Linked DNA regions of Homo sapiens: region 2 is linked to region 1. A link means that fine-mapping ties the variant in region 1 to the expression of a gene that starts in the linked region. Tissue or cell type: fibroblasts. Region 1 holds a variant in brackets; the other region holds the start of a gene. All regions are shown on one strand. Distances are from middle to middle.

Region 1 (8,681 bases):
AATCCACTGAAATAGAGCAGGCAGGACGGTGCTCTGCAGAGGTGATGGGTAAGCTGAGCCCCGCAACCATCTCAGGCGGTCCAGAGGATTGGTAAGAAACAAGGCGGGTGAGTCAGAGGATGGTACCAGACGGAGCTACTCAGGTTGGCGGGGGCCAGACCCTGGTGTGCAAGAAGTAACACTGGCTTTATGTTCTAGAACTCAACTTCATTCTGATATGGCCTCCCACACCACCGGGCAGTTTGTGCACGCGTGCATGCCTGCGTGTGTGCGCCCGTGCGATGGGAGACCCTCTGGGCATCAGTTCCCACAGCTGAGTCTGTGTTTTGCCTGAGCAGCCCCTTGGAGCCACCTTGGCACAGGGGAACGCTTTGCAAGGCTGCAGAGCCCTGGCCCCACCACACACACCCTGCAGCATTCAGGGTCGTGAGCGACTTGGGGCCACATCGCTAGTTCTCTCTGTCTCTGCCTCTGTCTCACTCTCCTTCAACCCCCTCAGCACCAGGAAATCGCCGCTCCTCATCTGGGGAAGCCCCTCCTCGGCTCCCCTGCTCCTCCCAGACACCCTTCTTCCCATGACCCTGACACCATTCCCCCAAACCCTCCAAGTTCTCCTAGGGGCCTAGGCTCTTGGAAAGCAAGGACTTGCTGGCTTCTGCTTTCTGTCCAGCTAAATAACTCCCCTGATGTGAGCAAATGTGGACCCAGCTAAGCACCAGCTGCTGGGGAAGGAAGAGGGGGAAATCAATGAATACATCAATATCTCAGGATCGTCTCTACCTCAAGAGGCTAGAGGGCAGGGCCTCTTAATACATGCAGATGAAGCCCACTTGCTCTCTTGGTAACGAGAACGCTATGCACACATCCGTGTGTACAGCCGTGCTCCGTGCACACACCTCTCCCACAGCCCGCCCAGGCAGGGTGCTGGTGCAGCCTCTCTCGAGGCCTCTCCCTGCTGCCCTCACCCACTCCCCTCCCCTCCTAGAGGTCGGTACCTCCTATTACGCCGTGGCTGTGGTCAGGAGGAGCTCCCATGTGACCATTGACACCCTGAAAGGCGTGAAGTCCTGCCACACGGGCATCAATCGCACAGTGGGCTGGAACGTGCCCGTGGGCTACCTGGTGGAGAGCGGCCGCCTCTCGGTGATGGGCTGCGATGTACTCAAAGGTGAGGGCTTTGGGCTGGGCAGGAGGGTCCCCAGGCCTCCCCCTCCTTTCCTTGGCCCATGCTCGTCCCTTCACTGGGTAGCCTCCCTCCGGCCTCGCCACCATTCTTCATTCCTGGAAGGCGCAGCAGCCCCCGCCCGCCCCGTGCCTCCCCCGCCTCCACTCTGCCGCCGGCGCCGCCGCTTGACTTCCTGCTTGCTTGGACCCTGTGGGGCGCGATTCTTGCTCACGCATCGTGGTGTCCCACATGGCACAGCCAGGCACAGGCCCAGCCCATGAGTGGGAAGCAGTGAATCTCCCAGGAGTGCTTCCCACCAGTATAGACCGGGCGCAGGTCACTGTGTCTAGAAATGTGTCCTCGGCTTTACAGGACCAGAAATGCTATTTTTTCAGGACCCAAACGAGGTGCCGACTTGCACCCAGAAAGCTCCCAAGTGGCTCATCAGCCCAACCAGCCGTGTAAACCCGCGAGAGCCTGGAAGCCTCACCCTCTCAGCTGGTGGCCAGGTGTGAGTGGCTCACCAGGCACTTGGCATATTTATTAAATATCTACTCCTCTGGGAGGTCACAAAAAAAAAACCAGGAAGAGGGCTTACTCTGGAAAAGCTCAGTCTGGCTGGCGATGAGCGTGGCCCGACTGGCTCAGGTGCCAGCAGCAGGGCCTCCTCGCGCGGCACAGGATAAATACTTGTGGGTTTTGGTGCTGGCAGGGCCGGAAGAACCATGCAGGGCGGCAGACCCTGACCTCGTCCCCCGTGAGGCTGGCCGCCGGGCGTGTGCCTCCCTCCCTGTGCCGTGAGAAGGGTTGTCTACCCATCAGTGATCTTCAATAATTCTTTATTTCCCCTCTGTCATCAGTCACAGTTGGCTGAGCTGGAAATGAAACCCACAGTGAGAAGAGCATCTGGCTGATACTGAGTTATCCCACGTGGTCATTTAGGAGGAAATGTTTAGTTCCCCCGAACCATTTTTAAATGACAGTCGCTCCCAGTGCTGTCTGCTGCCTTGGTGGACCCGGTTTGGGGGTCACTGATCGGGTCCACTCCCCAGCTTTGCTCAGACTGAAGCTGGAAGGTGGAACCATTCTCAGCAGAGTCCAGATGAGAGCCCGGGCCCCCTGCTGACCCTGGGGGCTTGGCTTGGCTCTGAAGAAAGTTCTGCTGAGTGACCTCTCTACCTCCTTCCCACAGCTGTCAGCGACTATTTTGGGGGCAGCTGCGTCCCGGGGGCAGGAGAGACCAGTTACTCTGAGTCCCTCTGTCGCCTCTGCAGGGGTGACAGCTCTGGGGAAGGGGTGTGTGACAAGAGCCCCCTGGAGAGATACTACGACTACAGCGGGGCCTTCCGGTGAGCGGAGTGGGGGCAGGGAGGGGCCGAGGGCAGGGAGGAGCTGAGGCCACAAATGCTGGGGAAAAACACCTTTGCCCAGAGAGGGCCGTGGAGGGGGAAGTGGCATGTTGGCTGCGTCTCATCAAAGCACCCTTTATATAGTTCTGTGCCCTGGTTAGTTTAAAAACATCCAGCTGGAATATGCCAAACCGGATTTGCTCATGAAATCAACGTGTTTGGTATATTTAGTGAGGTGAGGGCTCCAAGAGAAGAAAATGGAAAAAACAGCCTTTTGGCCACTCCCATGTCCCCATTCTCAGACCAGCAGGGAGCGGGGTCAGGGGAGTGTGTCTGGACACCTGGGGCCGGCCCGTCTCTGCTGCTGGTTGCGGCTGGCACCTTGGGTAACCCTTCCGTGGATGCAGGAGACTCTAACAGCTCGTGGTCCAATTCCATCTGCCTGCAGAGGAGGAAATGTGCTCAGCAGGATTGGAAAGGAAGCTTCTCGGGCCCCTCTAGCTACCTCACGTTTCCACCTGGAGCAGGGAAGCCTGCTGGTGCCCCACACTCCAGATGTTATCTGACTGGATGCGGTTTTCGGCTTAGAGAGAAGAAACAGTCCTCAGCACCCCTGAGCGGGACAGCCTTGCCCCTCCACTCCCCGTGTCCTTGGCCATGCACACATTCTCTCTGGCTCTCTTGGAGCCTCAGAGCCCTCTCCTGATGTCGCCCGCCCCGATCTGCTCTAATCCCTGTGCATTTTCTGCCCGTGGGGACCCAAGCAGACCCTTTGCCCAGGAGGTCTGACCTGCCTCCAACACTGGGCAGTGACATCAGCAGATCGTGTAAAAGTCAATGGTCCCTTCCACTGAGGATTCTGCGGCATGGCATGAAAAGGCCTTCTAGTCCAATCCCCTGCCTCAGGGTAGAATGCTCTTCAAAACACCCTGAAAATTAGCCCAGCATGGTGGCACACACCTGTCACCCCAGCTACTTTGGAGGCAGAGGCAGGATGATCACTTGAGCCCAAGAGGTCAAAGCTGCCATGAGCTATGATTGCGCCACTGCACTCCAGCCTGGGCGACACAGTGAGACCCTATCTCTAAAAACAAAACAACGAAAACAAACACACAGAAAACCGACGCCCTGAGAGTCAAGGCTGCTGATATTATAATAGCAGCTGCCCTGGGAGTGCCTGCTCCCTACAGGCCTGAGCTAAGATGGAGAGGGTCCATACTGGATTATAAGGAGCCTCTCATCCTCAGAGCAGCCCTGTGGGAGCTACTTTCCCACCCCCGCTTTACAGATGATAGGGGCTAGGAAGGGGCCACAACTCGGCAAAGGCACACAGCCGACCAGCCAGGGAGCTGGAACCCAGACCACACAACTGGAAAGCCCATGCCCATCATGGCCACCCCTACAGCCCAAGCCAGGCCTCCAGAGGTGGAAGATGGGCAGGGGCAGGGGCTCAGCCCATCCAGACCCACAGCTTCTCCTCCGCAGGTGCCTGGCGGAAGGGGCAGGGGACGTGGCTTTTGTGAAGCACAGCACGGTACTGGAGAACACGGATGGTGAGTGGGGGAGGGGCACGGGCCCAGAGGAGCAGGGAGTCAGGCCAGGCCGGCTTGGGGCAGGGACCCTAGATGGCAGAGTTGGGATCAAACGCCCTAGTGCAGTGCTGCTCTGAGTCTCTGGGTGACCTTGGACAAGTCCCACAGTCTCCGAGCCTCAGCACTCCCAGCTGCAAAAGAGCAGAGGCAGGTGTCACCAGTGGAGTGCCCACTGCCCACAGGGCAGGAGAAGGGGGCCAGCGAGCAGCTCTGCTCTGCTTTGATTTGAATATGGCATTGGGTTCTGGTTCCACCTGAAGATGAGGGTCTGATTTTTTAAGCAATTTGCAAACCCCTGCACTGGATCTCACCTACCAGCCCTTCCTGGCATTTTTCTCCTCTTGCCTGGAGAATTTGTCCCTCATCCCTGGGAAGGTTTAAGATATAGTTTGGTGTTGAGGCTGGGCACGGTGGCTCATGCCTGTAATCCCAGCACTTTGGGAGGCCGAGGTGGGCGGATCACGAGGTCAGGAGAAGAGACCATCCTGGCCAACATGGTGAAATCCTATCTCTGCTAAAATACAAAAAACTAGCCGAGCGTGGTGGTGGGTGCCTCAAATCCCAGCTACTTGGGAGGCTGAGGCAGGGGAATTGCTTGAACCCAGGAGGCAGAGATTGCAGTGAGCCGAGATCACACCACTGCACTCCAGCCTGGTGACAGAGCGAGACTCTGTCTAAAAAACAACAACAAAAAAAAAACCCACAAAGACTGGTGTTATATATTGAGCCATCATGTCATTTAAGTTTTTTAATTTTGAAAGAACTGAGCTTTGGAAAACTTACAAGAATAACTCAAAGAGCTCCCTTCTATTCTTCACCCAAATTCTAACTGTTTAGCATTTTCCCACATTTTATTGTGTGTGTGTGTGTGTGTGCGTGTGTGTTCTGACCCATTTGAGAGTACATTTGCCTATGTCATACCCCTTGAATACTTT[G/A]GTATGTATCTCCTAAGACAAGGAGGTGTGTACCTAGCCACAGTAATCCAAATCAGGACACGCAACTTTGATACAATCCTGTTATCCAGTCTATAGCCGATATTGCAGATTCACTCACCGTCCCAATTCTGTCCTTCATGCCCATTTCTTGCAGACCAGGACCTAAACTCTTACCACGCATGGGGTTTAGTTGTTAGATCTCTTTACTTTCCTTTATCTTGGAACAGTTTCTCAGTCTTTGTTTTTATGACATTGGCATTTTGAAGCATCAGGCCGGTTATTTTATAGAATGTCCCTCAATTTAGATTTGCCTGAAGATTGTTTCTTTTTTTAAATTGAGATATAATTTACATGCAGCAAAATTTGTTCTTTTTGAAGGATAGTTCTATGAGTTTTGCCAAATACATGCAGTTGTATAACCACCACCACAATCGAGATCTTGATGGGGCAGACCCTTCAGCCCAGGAGTTCCTCAGGCCCCTGCTAGTTATCTCCCCGCACCTGCCAGCAAGCAGCAAACACACCGTTCTGTCTGCAGTTTTGCGTCTCCCAGGACGTCTGATGATTGGGTTTTTTTTTTAAATCATTGTCATTCTTTGCTGTTATTAACCATTGCCTTTTAAATCAGAAAGTCCATCACGAAGGCAAACATGGACCAGATCTGAGGAGGAAGAAGGCGAGTGCCCTGCACACGAGGAAGCACGTAGGACGATGCGCTCTAGTGCTGGGCAAGCCTGGAAATGGGCTCCCGTTCACAGGCCCCAGGACGAGTCTGACAAAGGAGAATTTGGAAAACGGGCAAAGAGTAGGGATATGTTGGGTTAAGAATCAGCTCTTTCAAACTTGGGGTTTTTTTTGAGATGGGGGTCTCACCATGTTGCCCAGGCTGGTCTCAAACCCCCAGCCTCAACTGATCCTCGCATCTCAGCCTCCTGAGTAGCTGGGATGACAGGCGTGCACCTGGCAGCTTTTTCAAAGTGTTGATGGTAATCTGAGGCAATCTAAGGGAGTCATTTTTTAAGTGACTTTATACAGAAAGATTGGTAAGAGCCAAGGGGTAGAAGTGGCATAAATGTCTAAAGCAGGGAAGTGACAGGACTTTCATTGTTCTTGGCTGAGGAGAAGCGGGAGTGGCTGATGGAAGCACCTAAATGATGCCTTTGTCTGTGGGAAGGCAAATGATGCCCCAGAGCTCTAACCAAAGGTTTTGCAGCCGCCGAAAAACAGGAAAGTTGGGAAGCGGGGGTAGGACTACACTGAATCATTAACAGTGCTGTAAACTACCATGTGGCCATTAACAATGACCTTTAGGGAGTTTTCCTAAACGATCACTCTGGTGCGGGTGTTTGGTTTTGTTTTAAAATAGCTTTGCAGTGAAAGCTTTCATGACCATACAAATTATCTTTTTTCTTCCTATTTCCTTGTAGAGGTTTTTTTCCTCCTTGTCTTAAGGTCATAAAAATATTGTTATGTGGGACCATCTGTGGTTTAATTATAGTCCTTAATATTCGTCTTCTCAATATCCCTGTTTGGTGTTAATAGTTACTCTTGCAAATTTTCTTTTCTATCGAGAAACAAATGAACTTATGGAAAGTTTCCAATACTGTGGAAAAATACTCTACCAAATAGGATGCAAAATTGCCTGTCAACTATGTCCTTAACCAGGTTAAAAGCGGTCAAAAGGAGGCTGGGCACGGTGCCTCACGCCTGTAATCCCAGCACTTTGGGAGGCCGAGGCTGGCAGATCATGAGGTCAGGGGTTCAAGACCGGCCTGGCCAACATGGTGAAACCCCATCTCTAGGAAAAATACAAAAATTAGCCAGGCATCTTGGTGCACACCTGTAATCTGAGCTACTCGGGAGGCTGAGGCAGAAGAATAACTTGAACCTGGGAGGCGGAGGTTGCAGTGAGCCAAGATCATGCCACTGCACTCCAGCCTGAGCGACAGAGTAAGACTCCATCTCAAAAAGAGAAAAAAGGCCAGGTGTGGAGGCTCACGCCTGTAATCCCAGCACTTTGGGAGGCCGAGGTGGGTGGATCACGAGGTCAGGAGATCAAGACCATCCTGGCTAACACAGTAAAACCCCATCTCTAATAAAAAAAAATACAAAAAATTAGCCGGGCGTGGTGGCGGGCACCTGTGGTCCCAGCTACTCGGGAGGCTGAGGCAGGAGAATGGCGTGAACCCGGAAGGTGGAGGTTGCAGTGAGCCGAGATCGTGCCACTGCACTCCAGCCTGGGCGAAAGGGCCAGACTCCGTCTCAAAAAGAAAAAGGGGGGGTGAGGTCAAAAGACAGGAAATAAAATAGAAAAAAGGACTTGAAAGAAATCCATCGCAATATGAATAGTTGGAGTTATGGGAGATCCCCCGTCCTCTCTAGTCCTGGGGTGGGTAGATTCCTTCGGGGTTTGTTTCCACCGTGGCCCCTGCTCCGGGAGCCCTGCCCCCTGCCCCCTGCTCAGAGCCAAACGCAGTGCCTCATGGCAGCCGCAAGCTCATCCTAGACTCTTGGTACATTCATCTGTCTCACCCAAAGCCTTTCTTTTTTTTTGAGACAGAGTTTCGCTCTGTCGCCCAGGCTGGAGTGCAGTGGCGTGATCTCGGCTCACTGCAAGCTCCGCCTCCCAGGTTCACACCATTCTCCTGCCTCAGCCTCCCCAGTAGCTGGGATTACAGGCGCCCGCCACCACGCCCAGCTAATTTTTTGTATTTTTAGTAGAGATGGGGTTTCACCGTGTTAGCCAGGATGGTCTTGATCTCCTGACCTCGTGATCCGCCCACCTCGGCCTCCCAAAGTGCTGGGATTACAGGCGTGAGCCACCACGCCCGGCCAGCCTTTCTTATTTTCTTACTTTTTTTATCTTGAATAGTTATTTATAAGTATTGTATTACTGTCAGATACCTCCAATTCACTTTAGCAATAGAAATTGGTGAGAGCTAGAAAATGAGAGTAACGAGATAGAGTCTGTGTAGGTACCTGGAGTTGGGTGCGGCCACCAAGCTCTGCCACCTTCTGAATGCTGGGTTCTCATGTCCATGACACCCAGCCACCCCTCAGATTCCCTCTCCTGGGCCTTCCCCGCCACCCGCCCCAACCCCTTTCGGAGCTGGCTCAGCCCAGGCTTCCTGCTTCCCAGGGAAGACGCTTCCCTCCTGGGGCCAGGCCCTGCTGTCACAGGACTTCGAGCTGCTGTGCCGGGATGGTAGCCGGGCCGATGTCACCGAGTGGAGGCAGTGCCATCTGGCCCGGGTGCCTGCTCACGCCGTGGTGGTCCGGGCCGACACAGATGGGGGCCTCATCTTCCGGCTGCTCAACGAAGGCCAGGTGGGCTCAGGGTCCCCCAACCACCTGCACAGCTTCCTAGATGGTGCCGGGCCTTGTGGTCGCTCAGCAGGGTGGGACCAGGAGGGGCAGGACCCAGAGACTGTCCTTGGGACGGACCCCAGCATCGGGCCAGGTCAGAGTGAGGAACCGACTATGCTGGCTGGCCAGAAGGAGGGCTGGCCAGGAGAGGGGGGCCCAGAGGAGGGGGACCCAGGGATTCAGGCACCCTCAGAAGAAGCTCCTGAGACTTGTGTCTCTGAGAGCTAAAACCAAAACATATGAGCAAATAAACCAAGTAACAAAACCAGCGCCT
Region 2 (8,681 bases), 19 kb after region 1:
CTCCCGGAACGTCCCCACACACACTGCTTTACCCCCCTCAGGCCACAATTCCGAGCCCTGGGCTGCTGAGCTCAGGTCAGAGGACTATGAACTGCTGTGCCCCAACGGGGCCCGAGCCGAGGTGTCCCAGTTTGCAGCCTGCAACCTGGCACAGATACCACCCCACGCCGTGATGGTCCGGCCCGACACCAACATCTTCACCGTGTATGGACTGCTGGACAAGGCCCAGGTGAGCCAGGGTGGGGCTACCTCATTGAGGGGTGTGCAGCAGAGGTAAGCTGAGCCCCTGGGAGGCCTCAGTCTACCTGGAGCAGACCTCTAGAGAAATTGAGGAAGCCCGGGGGAAATTCTGTGATTTTCACTTACGCAAGGACATCCCTCCAGAAACTGTCCCCTCTGCCTCCTGCATCGTTGATTTTCCCTTCTCAGTCGGACCATTTTCACCAACATGAAACATGCTGTGACTTCTGCCATCCTTAAAGAACAAACTAACCTCTTGGTCTCACATCCATCCTCTTGCAGCTGTAATCCTGCTCCCTTTTTTTCTTTTTTTTTTGAGACGGAGTCTTACTCTGTCGCCCCAGGCTGGAGTGCAGTGGCACTATCTCGGCTCACTGCAAGCTCCGCCTCCCGGGTTCACGCCATTCTCCCACCTCAGCCTCCTGAGTAGCTGGGACTACAGGCACCCGCCACCATGCCTGGCTAATTTTTTCTATTTTTTAGTAGAGAAGGGGTTTCACCGTGTTAGCCAGGATGGTCTCGATCTCCTGACCTCGTGATCCGCCCACCTCGGCCTCCCAAAGTGCTGGGATTACAGGCATGAGCCACTGTGCCCGGCCAATCCTGCTCCCTTTCGAAGCAAAACTCCTCCAAAGAGTGGTCTGCTCTGGAGTTAACAAGTCCTCTCCTCTGGCCTCTCTTAAGGATGGAGACTGAGTTAGCAAGTCCTCTCCTCTGGCCCCTCTTAAGGATGGAGACTACCCCAGACAGGCTCCCACCAGGGCCCTGAAGCTGTTCTTGTCAAGGTCACAGTGACCCATGTTGCTAAACCCAGTGGCCATTTCTCAGTCTTCATTTTACTTGACCTCTCAGTGGCACTGGCCACAGCTCTCCCTCCTCCTGGAAACACCTTCCCCTGCAGATGCCCAGGTCCTCAGCCCTGCCTGGCTGTCCTCTCACTCTCTGGCCACTCCTCAGTCTTCTCTGCTGATTTCCTCCCCATCTCCCTGACCTGTTAGCCCTAGGATTCAGTTCTCAGCCCTCTTCCCTGTCTACAGCTTACCCTTGATCTCATCCAATCCCATGTCATCAAATACCATCTATATACAGATGGCTTCTAAATTTACATCTTCAGACATCAGTCCCAAACTTGCATATTTAACTACATACTTGACATTTTGACTTGTGTTTCTAACAGTCATCTCAAATGGATCAAGTCCAAAGTTGGACCCCCGTCCCTCCTTCAGTCTTCCCCACTTCAATTAAGAGCAACTTTAGCTTTTCCATTTCCTCGGGAGTCATTTTTGACTCCGGTCTTCCTCTCGTGCTCTACAGCCAATCTATCAGCAGATCCCATTGGTTGTGCTTTCAAAATATACCTAGAATTTAAACCCAGGTTGTCTCACAATGGAGCCACTGGTTTCTAACCACTCCCCCTCCCCCGACTTATGCTGAAATTGCCTTCTCCACACCCACCAGCACCACAGAACTGCAGAGCTGGCTGGCTCGCCAGGCCTGTTCCTAAACTTTGACATTGTGAACTGACGCATGTTCCTTCCTGTCATCTTCCCCACAGAACCCCTCTATCCCAGGAGTGCTTTACTCTGGGTCCCTGGGCTTCCCTAGGGGGTTGCTAAGTCCTCTGAAGTAATGTGGGAGAAGAATCCTGGGTGGATGTGCATTTTTCTGGGGAGAAGGCTGACAGCTTTCATCAGATCTTCAGGAGGATCTGCGAGTCCCTCCAAAAAGACTGAGAGCCACCTGACTCCTTCGTTCCTCCTTGATCAGTACTTAACACTTTACATAGACATTCATGCATGTTCTCCAGATGTCCTTTATTTATATTCGTATTCATAAGTTCTCATACTACTTCTGGTCTTTTTAGTAGCTCTTTTAGGGCTGTAGCCACAGAACGGTCATTCTAGTGATTCTGAGCAGGGTGGAGAGGAGTGCAGCATCCCTGGGCGGGTGGGTCAGTGAAGACACGCCCAGCTCACCTGATATTCTGTGACTGGTTGCAGAACACAAGTCCCTCTCGAAATTGTTTAGGTTTGTGGGGAGATATCTGTAAGACAGAGTGAGAAAGCCTTATGGAAAAGGCCAAGAAGTGCTCAGCAGGCCTAGCAGAACGCTCAGGAATCCCACCCACACCATCCCTCATTTCTGGGTCTTTCTTCCTGGACATCTCAGGCCTCAGACCTGCATCCAGGAGCTGGAGCACCGCAGTGCTTCTGAACGCCTCTTCCAGTGGCACCTGCGGGCCTAGTGTCCCCACACCCGCTTGGGTGACAGAGGCCAATCAGTTGTCAAGCTTATGACTTCCAATCAGAGTGGTGGGGCCCTGAAATGACTTGCTCTTTGGGTCACTGTATGTAAAGCAATTTGCAGCTAGCGGCACTGGGCGGGTGACCCTGCCTGAGCCCAGTGAGGAGCAGGTCGTCTGCCTGCGGTGCTTCCAGGACCTGTTTGGAGACGACCACAATAAGAACGGGTTCAAAATGTTCGACTCCTCCAACTATCATGGCCAAGACCTGCTTTTCAAGGATGCCACCGTCCGGGCGGTGCCTGTCGGAGAGAAAACCACCTACCGCGGCTGGCTGGGGCTGGACTACGTGGCGGCGCTGGAAGGGATGTCGTCTCAGCAGTGCTCGGGCGCAGGTAGGACAGGCCCGCCCTGCCGCCTCCCCTGGTGCTATTCAGACCCCTTCACCCCAGAACCCTGAGGGAGCGGGGGGCGCTGCGGGTCCGGGGAGGCGGGTGGAGGCCCGTTCGCAGCAGTCCAGGTGGGGTGTCCCGGGAGGATTTTGGCCAGGAGGCTGCGGGCCGGGAGGGCGGGAGCCCGGCGGGTCTCCCAGACGGACCTGGGTAATGAGTGTGAACGCTCAAAACGGCGGCGCGGGGAGGATCTGGGGCCACGGCAGAGACATGCGTGTGCTGCCTTTCTGGAAAGAGCGCATCTGGAAGGGCAGCAGGGGAAAGGAGCACAAAGAGGGAGGCTGCGGCGAGTTCGGTCCCGAAAGATGCCCCCACCCCCACCCCAGAGCGGGCGCCTGAGGCGGCCACCGCGGCCCGGGCTTCGGGGCCTGACCCGCCGCGTTCGTCCCCAGCGGCCCCGGCGCCCGGGGCGCCCCTGCTCCCGCTGCTGCTGCCCGCCCTCGCCGCCCGCCTGCTCCCGCCCGCCCTCTGAGCCCGGCCGCCCCGCCCCAGAGCTCCGATGCCCGCCCGGGGAGTTTCCGCGGCGGCTTCGCGCTGGAATCCAGAAGGAAGCTCGCGAAGGCCGGGCCCGGCGTGGGCGGGAGCAGGCGCCTCCCCGGGAGCCCCGCCGCCCACGGGCGCCACCTGGCGCTGCTACCTGAGGCGCCGCCCCCGGGCCCGCGCGGCCCTTCCCGCCAACCGCCGCCTCCCGCCACCTGGAGCCGCGCGGGCCGCGCCGGAGGAGGCCGGTTGCCCAGGAAACCGCTGAGTCCGGGCTTCCCGCCGCCCGCCCCGCGGTGTCGCCCGAGGGGCCCGCCCGCCTCCTCCCCGCAGCCCCGCGCCCCCGTCCGCGAGGCCCCCTGGGGACGCGGTGGCCGCCGAGGCGCCTACACCCGCAGGCCGCGGCCAGGCCGTCCCAGGAGGCCCCGGCGCCAACGGGACCCGGCGCGTGGGACAGCGGCCTCTGCTGGCGGCGGCGGGAGGGAGGCCGGACCGGGGCGACGGGGAGAAGCCTTCGCCCGCGGGACCGTGTCCGGGGTGGGGGCTCCAGTTCCTCCGACCGCCCGTGCGCTGGGAGGGAGGCCGAGCCCGGGGAACGCCGCGTGCCCTGCCTCGTCCCCCACTGTGGCCGCGCCAGCTCCATCCCGGGCCAGCCGCGTCCACGGGCCCCCTCCCGAGTCTCCTCAGGCTCTCGCCTCCCCTACCCCCGTGGGATGCCCACCGCCCGCACCCACGCCCGAGCCTGGCGGCAGCAGCCGCCCCCCGCCTGAAGGGAGCCGGAGGTGACCCAGGCCGCGGGCTCCCGAGGCCCCTGAAGGGCTGCGCGTGGGGACCCGCCATGCTTCTGGGTTCCGAACGGGGGTGAGCTCCGTCTCCTCACCCGGCCCCGCACCCGCTGGGCCTGGGGACCCCTCACTCCCCGTGCCCGCCCCTCCGCGAGGCAGCAGAAAGCGCCCGGCCGGGGCCTCTCTCTACTCCATCTTGCCACAGTTGTCTGAGAAGCCAGAAAAAGTTTCCAGAACTGGCAGCCCTTAAAAAAAATGAAGAGGAAGAGAAGAAATGGGAGCAGGCAGCCCTCGTCAGCAGACCGGGAGCCGCGTGGGCGCGGAGCCATTTGCATTCCGGTCTGCGGGGGCTCGGGGATGCTGGTGACAGGCCCGGTTCCCGGTGGCTCGCCCCCACCTGCGGGCGTCGGGAAGGATCCCTTCCATCTCTCAGCCGCAGAGGAGGCCCTGGCAGCGCCCCGGCTGTAGCCATGCAACCCCGAGGAGTCCCGGGCACCTTCACCCCACCGGGAGGGGCCACAAGGACCTGGGCCTCGGCCACCAAGCTTTGTCCCCTCTCGCTGTGGGGGGCTAGTGATTCTCCTCCGACCTGACGATTGCTTGGTTTTTTCAAAAGGGAGTTTTGTGCGGTGAGAAGTGTGTTTCTGTGTGGCTAACTCTGGGCTAGCGTGCCGTGGCCATTGAAGGTGTGGCCTGCGTGGGTGCAGTGTAAGTGACGCTGGATTGTCAGGTGGCAGCAGGGGACCCCTGCTGTGTCAGTGCTAATGAAACATGTTGGTTGGTTTCTAAAATAAAGCCAAACAAGCCAGCACATGCAGAGGCTTGGACCCTGATAGAAACTTCTGCTGCCGATTTCTTTCGTTTTGTTAGGCACTCAAAGGCCTACCTGCTCCACCGAGAAGGGCAGATTCCATTCTCCAAGAGCCAGTCAGGGACCACTCTCATCCTCTAGTCAGTGAGGCCCCCCGCGCCCTTCTTCGACCTGGACTGGTTCTCTGGCTCTTGCAGGGCCTCCGCTGCCCTGGCACATTCCAGCTGCCTCCACCCCATCAGGCTCTGGGGTGTCTGCCCTTCTGTGGATGGGTGCAGAGAAGGGTGCAAACTTCTCTGCTGCCCCCTGCCCCACACCTCCAAAATAAGCGGCCCACATCTTTTCTCTGGCAAGCTCGCTGCTAACTCACTGGAGGGGGGCGTGGGGAGCGGATCTCCCAGAGACCCTACAGTGGGTGCTCTGTGGTATCTACTGAGGTGGGGGTGGGCCCGGCTGGTCTTCATCAGTGCTCTGCTCTCCCTCTGGAAGGGGAGGTTTTCTCTGCTTCCCTCTCTCATGGCTTCACTTGGCCCCCACACCACCACCCCTCGCCGCTGTGGCCATCTCCCAGAGCCAGGTCTTGCCCACCACTGCACACAGGCCATTTTCCATGAAGTCGGCTCAGTTATCACAAAGCCAGTCAATTCCTGGGGACCTGGATGGCCAGAGTTGACCGACTTTGTCTCTGCATCACATGGACGAGTCTCAGCTGCACAGTCACTCCAGCTCGCCTCATGCTACCACTTCCCTACCCTGAACTTCTGGAAAGGAAAGTTAACCTTTGGGCACCCTAGCCCCTCATCTGAAAAACACACAGTACGATCACCAGCTTGGTGAGGTGGTTGTGAAGATCCAGTCTAAGATGCAAAACACTCAGCACAGTGCTTGGCACACGGCATAGAGACTAAGACACAAAACACTGCACAGTGCTTGGCACACGGCATAGAGTCTAAGACACAAAACACTCAGCACAGTGCTTGGCACACGGCATAGAGTCTAAGACACAAAACACTCAGCACAGTGCTTGGCACACGGCATAGAGTCTAAGACACAAAACACTCAGCACAGTGCTTGGCACACGGCATAGAGTCTAAGACACAAAACACTCAGCACAGTGCTTGGCACATGGCATAGAGTCTAAGACACAAAACACTCAGCACAGTGCTTGGCACACGGTGGGTGCAGGAAGGATGTTCACTGTCACTACTGCTATTACTCCAGAGCCTGTTTTCTTGTCTTCAATTTGGAATTCCTGGGAGAGATCATCTGATTGGCCCAGTGTGCGTCAGGCATCTACCACTGGACCAGTCAGCACAGGCCAGAAGCAGGGTGTATAGCGGACACATGGCCACCGAGGCCCCAGAAAAAGGAAATGAAATCCTTGTGAGTCAGGCAGCCATGCCCCAGCACCCCCATGGCTACCAGGCCTGTTGTAGGGCTATTGGCCATTTGTTGAGCAAATACTTACTGATACCTACTTGTCAGTACCACCCCTAGACCTAGGCAAGAGGGATTCTAGTCCTCGGTTTTGTGCTTTCAAGCAGTGCTTTTCAGACCTTGATGTGCACATTAACTGCCTGGGGATCTTGTTAAAATGTAGACTCTGGTTCAGAAGGGCCAGCATGAGACTGAGAGTCTGCAGTTCAGACCAGCTCCCAGGTGGTGCCTGTGCTGGTGGTCCAGGGACCACACTTTGAGAAGCAAGCCTTCAGAGGCCTCCCCCAGACCACACCCCACACCCCACCCACAGAGGGAGCAATCACAGGGAAAAGGGATGCGTTCACTCAGGGGTCATCTTTTCTTTTTTTGAAACGGAGTCTTGCTCTGTTGCCCAAGCTGGAGTTCAGTGGCACAATCTTAGCTCACTGCAACCTCCGCCTTCCGGGTTCAAGTGATTCTCCTGCCTCAGCCTCTCAAGTAGCTGGAAATACAAGCGCCCACCACCACACATGGCTACTCTTTGTATTTTTCATAGAGATGGGGTTTCACCATGTTGGCCAGGATGGTCTCGAACTCCTGACCTCGTGATCCGCCCACCTCGGCCTCCCAAAGGCCTCCCAAAGGGATTACAGGCATGAGCCACCGCACCTGGCCCCAGAGCCCATTTTTCACACCATGTTCCAGATACCTGGGATCCTGGACTTTATACCTCAAACAGCCCTGAGCCAGCTTCCAGGGTCTGGAGGGCCCCTTACCTAGATCCTGCCTCCCAAGGTGGCCAAAGCTCTCGCAGGAGGTGTAGTTGAGCGTGATGAGCAGGCTGCCGTGTCCTCTGCAATGCGCAAGGCCCTCGAAGCGTGGGTTGCAGCCTGGATGGGAAGAGAGCGGGTGGGCTATGGCGGGGAAGCCTGTTCTGTCCGCAGCTCCTATTCTAGGCTGCTGAGTCTTTATAAAGGTTTGTTTGTCAAAGTAGGAGGACAGGACACATTCTCTTTAATAGCTTGTTAGCTTGATTTGTAACATTTAATGTGGAGCCACATGGTAGGCGGGCCTCTGTTGGTACTCTTGTCCTAGGCCCCACAAGTGCTTGGGGTCGGCCAGCCTGCTGTGTGCACAGCCCTGTGCTCAGCGCTCTGGAAGGTACAAAGAAGTAAGTACACGGCCTACTAGCCCTGCCCCCCTTGGTCTCATTTGGAGAGGCCACCGAGGTGGTGTGGTAGAAGAACACTGCTGTGCAGGAGGGACAGTGACAGGATAGACAGGGCCTTGTGGCCCACACGGCACAAGCCGTCACCCCCAGCTTCAGACTCCTCCCCAGGTGTTCTTGACTGTTTACAATGAGGATGTGTTCCTCAGGACAACATTCTTGAAAAAGATTCACACAACATTTACAATAGGTATAAATGCTACAATTTTTTAAAAAGATATATTAATTAGGCTGGGTGTGGTGGCTCACCGCTGTCAACCCAGCCCTTTGGGAGGCTGAGGTGGAAGAATCGCTTGAGCCCAGGAATTTAAGACCAGTCTGGGCAACATAGTGAGACCCCATCTCTACAAACAATTTTTAAAAAAATTAGCCCAGTGTGGTGGCCCACACCTGTACCTCCAGCTACTTGGGAGGCTGAGGTGGGAGGATCACTTGTGCCTGGGAGGTGGAGGTTCCGGTGAGCCGTGATGGTGCCACTGCACTCCAGACCAGACCCTGCCTCAAAAAAAAAGATATTCCAATTTTGTGGAATAAAAACCAGCTCACTCACCTAAGATTCAGGAAACTTGAATTCTCATTCCACTTTGGTATTCACCCTGGGCCAATACTTTCTCCTCTCCCCATCTCAGTTCCCAAATCTATAAACTGAGAAGCGGGTATGGGGCCTCGACGATTTCTAGCTCTAACAGTAATTCTTAGACTAAAACACATCTGAGTCTTCACGGGGTTGTTGCCTGTGCTGAAGTGAGAGGGGCCGGGTGGGCTCTTTTTGTTTCTGCCTTTCTCAGCTGCCTCTGCGTTGGTGCTAACAAGCCAGAAGCTGGGTTTCACAGCGGAGAGTCATATACGTCAAAGCTTCTCGCCTTGAGCGTATGTGAGGATCACCTGAGGGTTTATTAAAACATAGACTGCGAAGCTGGGTGCAATGGTGTATGCCTGTAGTCCCAGCTACTTGGAGGTTGAGGCAGGAGGATTGCTTGAGCCCAGGAGTTGAGGCCAGCCTGGGCAACATAGTGAGACTCCC

The links. PIP is the estimated chance that this variant, and not a neighbour inherited with it, causes the effect.
Region 2: MELTF-AS1 starts here. The variant in region 1 is fine-mapped to the expression of MELTF-AS1 in fibroblasts (GTEx, PIP above 0.99).

Annotation. Positions count from the first base shown.
Region 1 is chr3:197,016,790-197,025,470 of GRCh38, reverse strand. MELTF (melanotransferrin) reads left to right here. Exons shown (of 16, transcript NM_005929.6): 4 at 986-1,168; 5 at 2,358-2,514; 6 at 4,000-4,067; 7 at 8,181-8,368. Among named protein-coding and RNA genes, the nearest start is that of MELTF, 8.7 kb to the left of the region's middle. RefSeq lists an enhancer at 2,688-2,737. The variant G/A (reference allele first, on the strand shown) is at 5,042.
Region 2 is chr3:196,998,097-197,006,777 of GRCh38, reverse strand. MELTF-AS1 (MELTF antisense RNA 1) reads right to left here and starts at 3,872. Exons shown (of 4, transcript NR_038285.1): 1 at 3,805-3,872; 2 at 2,808-3,176; 3 at 2,419-2,681; 4 at 2,034-2,284. It overlaps MELTF (melanotransferrin), which reads left to right. Exons shown (of 16, transcript NM_005929.6): 14 at 42-229; 15 at 2,679-2,877; 16 at 3,327-5,038. The coding sequence ends at 3,406. It also overlaps the pseudogene RPSAP30. RefSeq lists silencers at 2,914-3,313, 3,354-4,143, 4,294-4,373.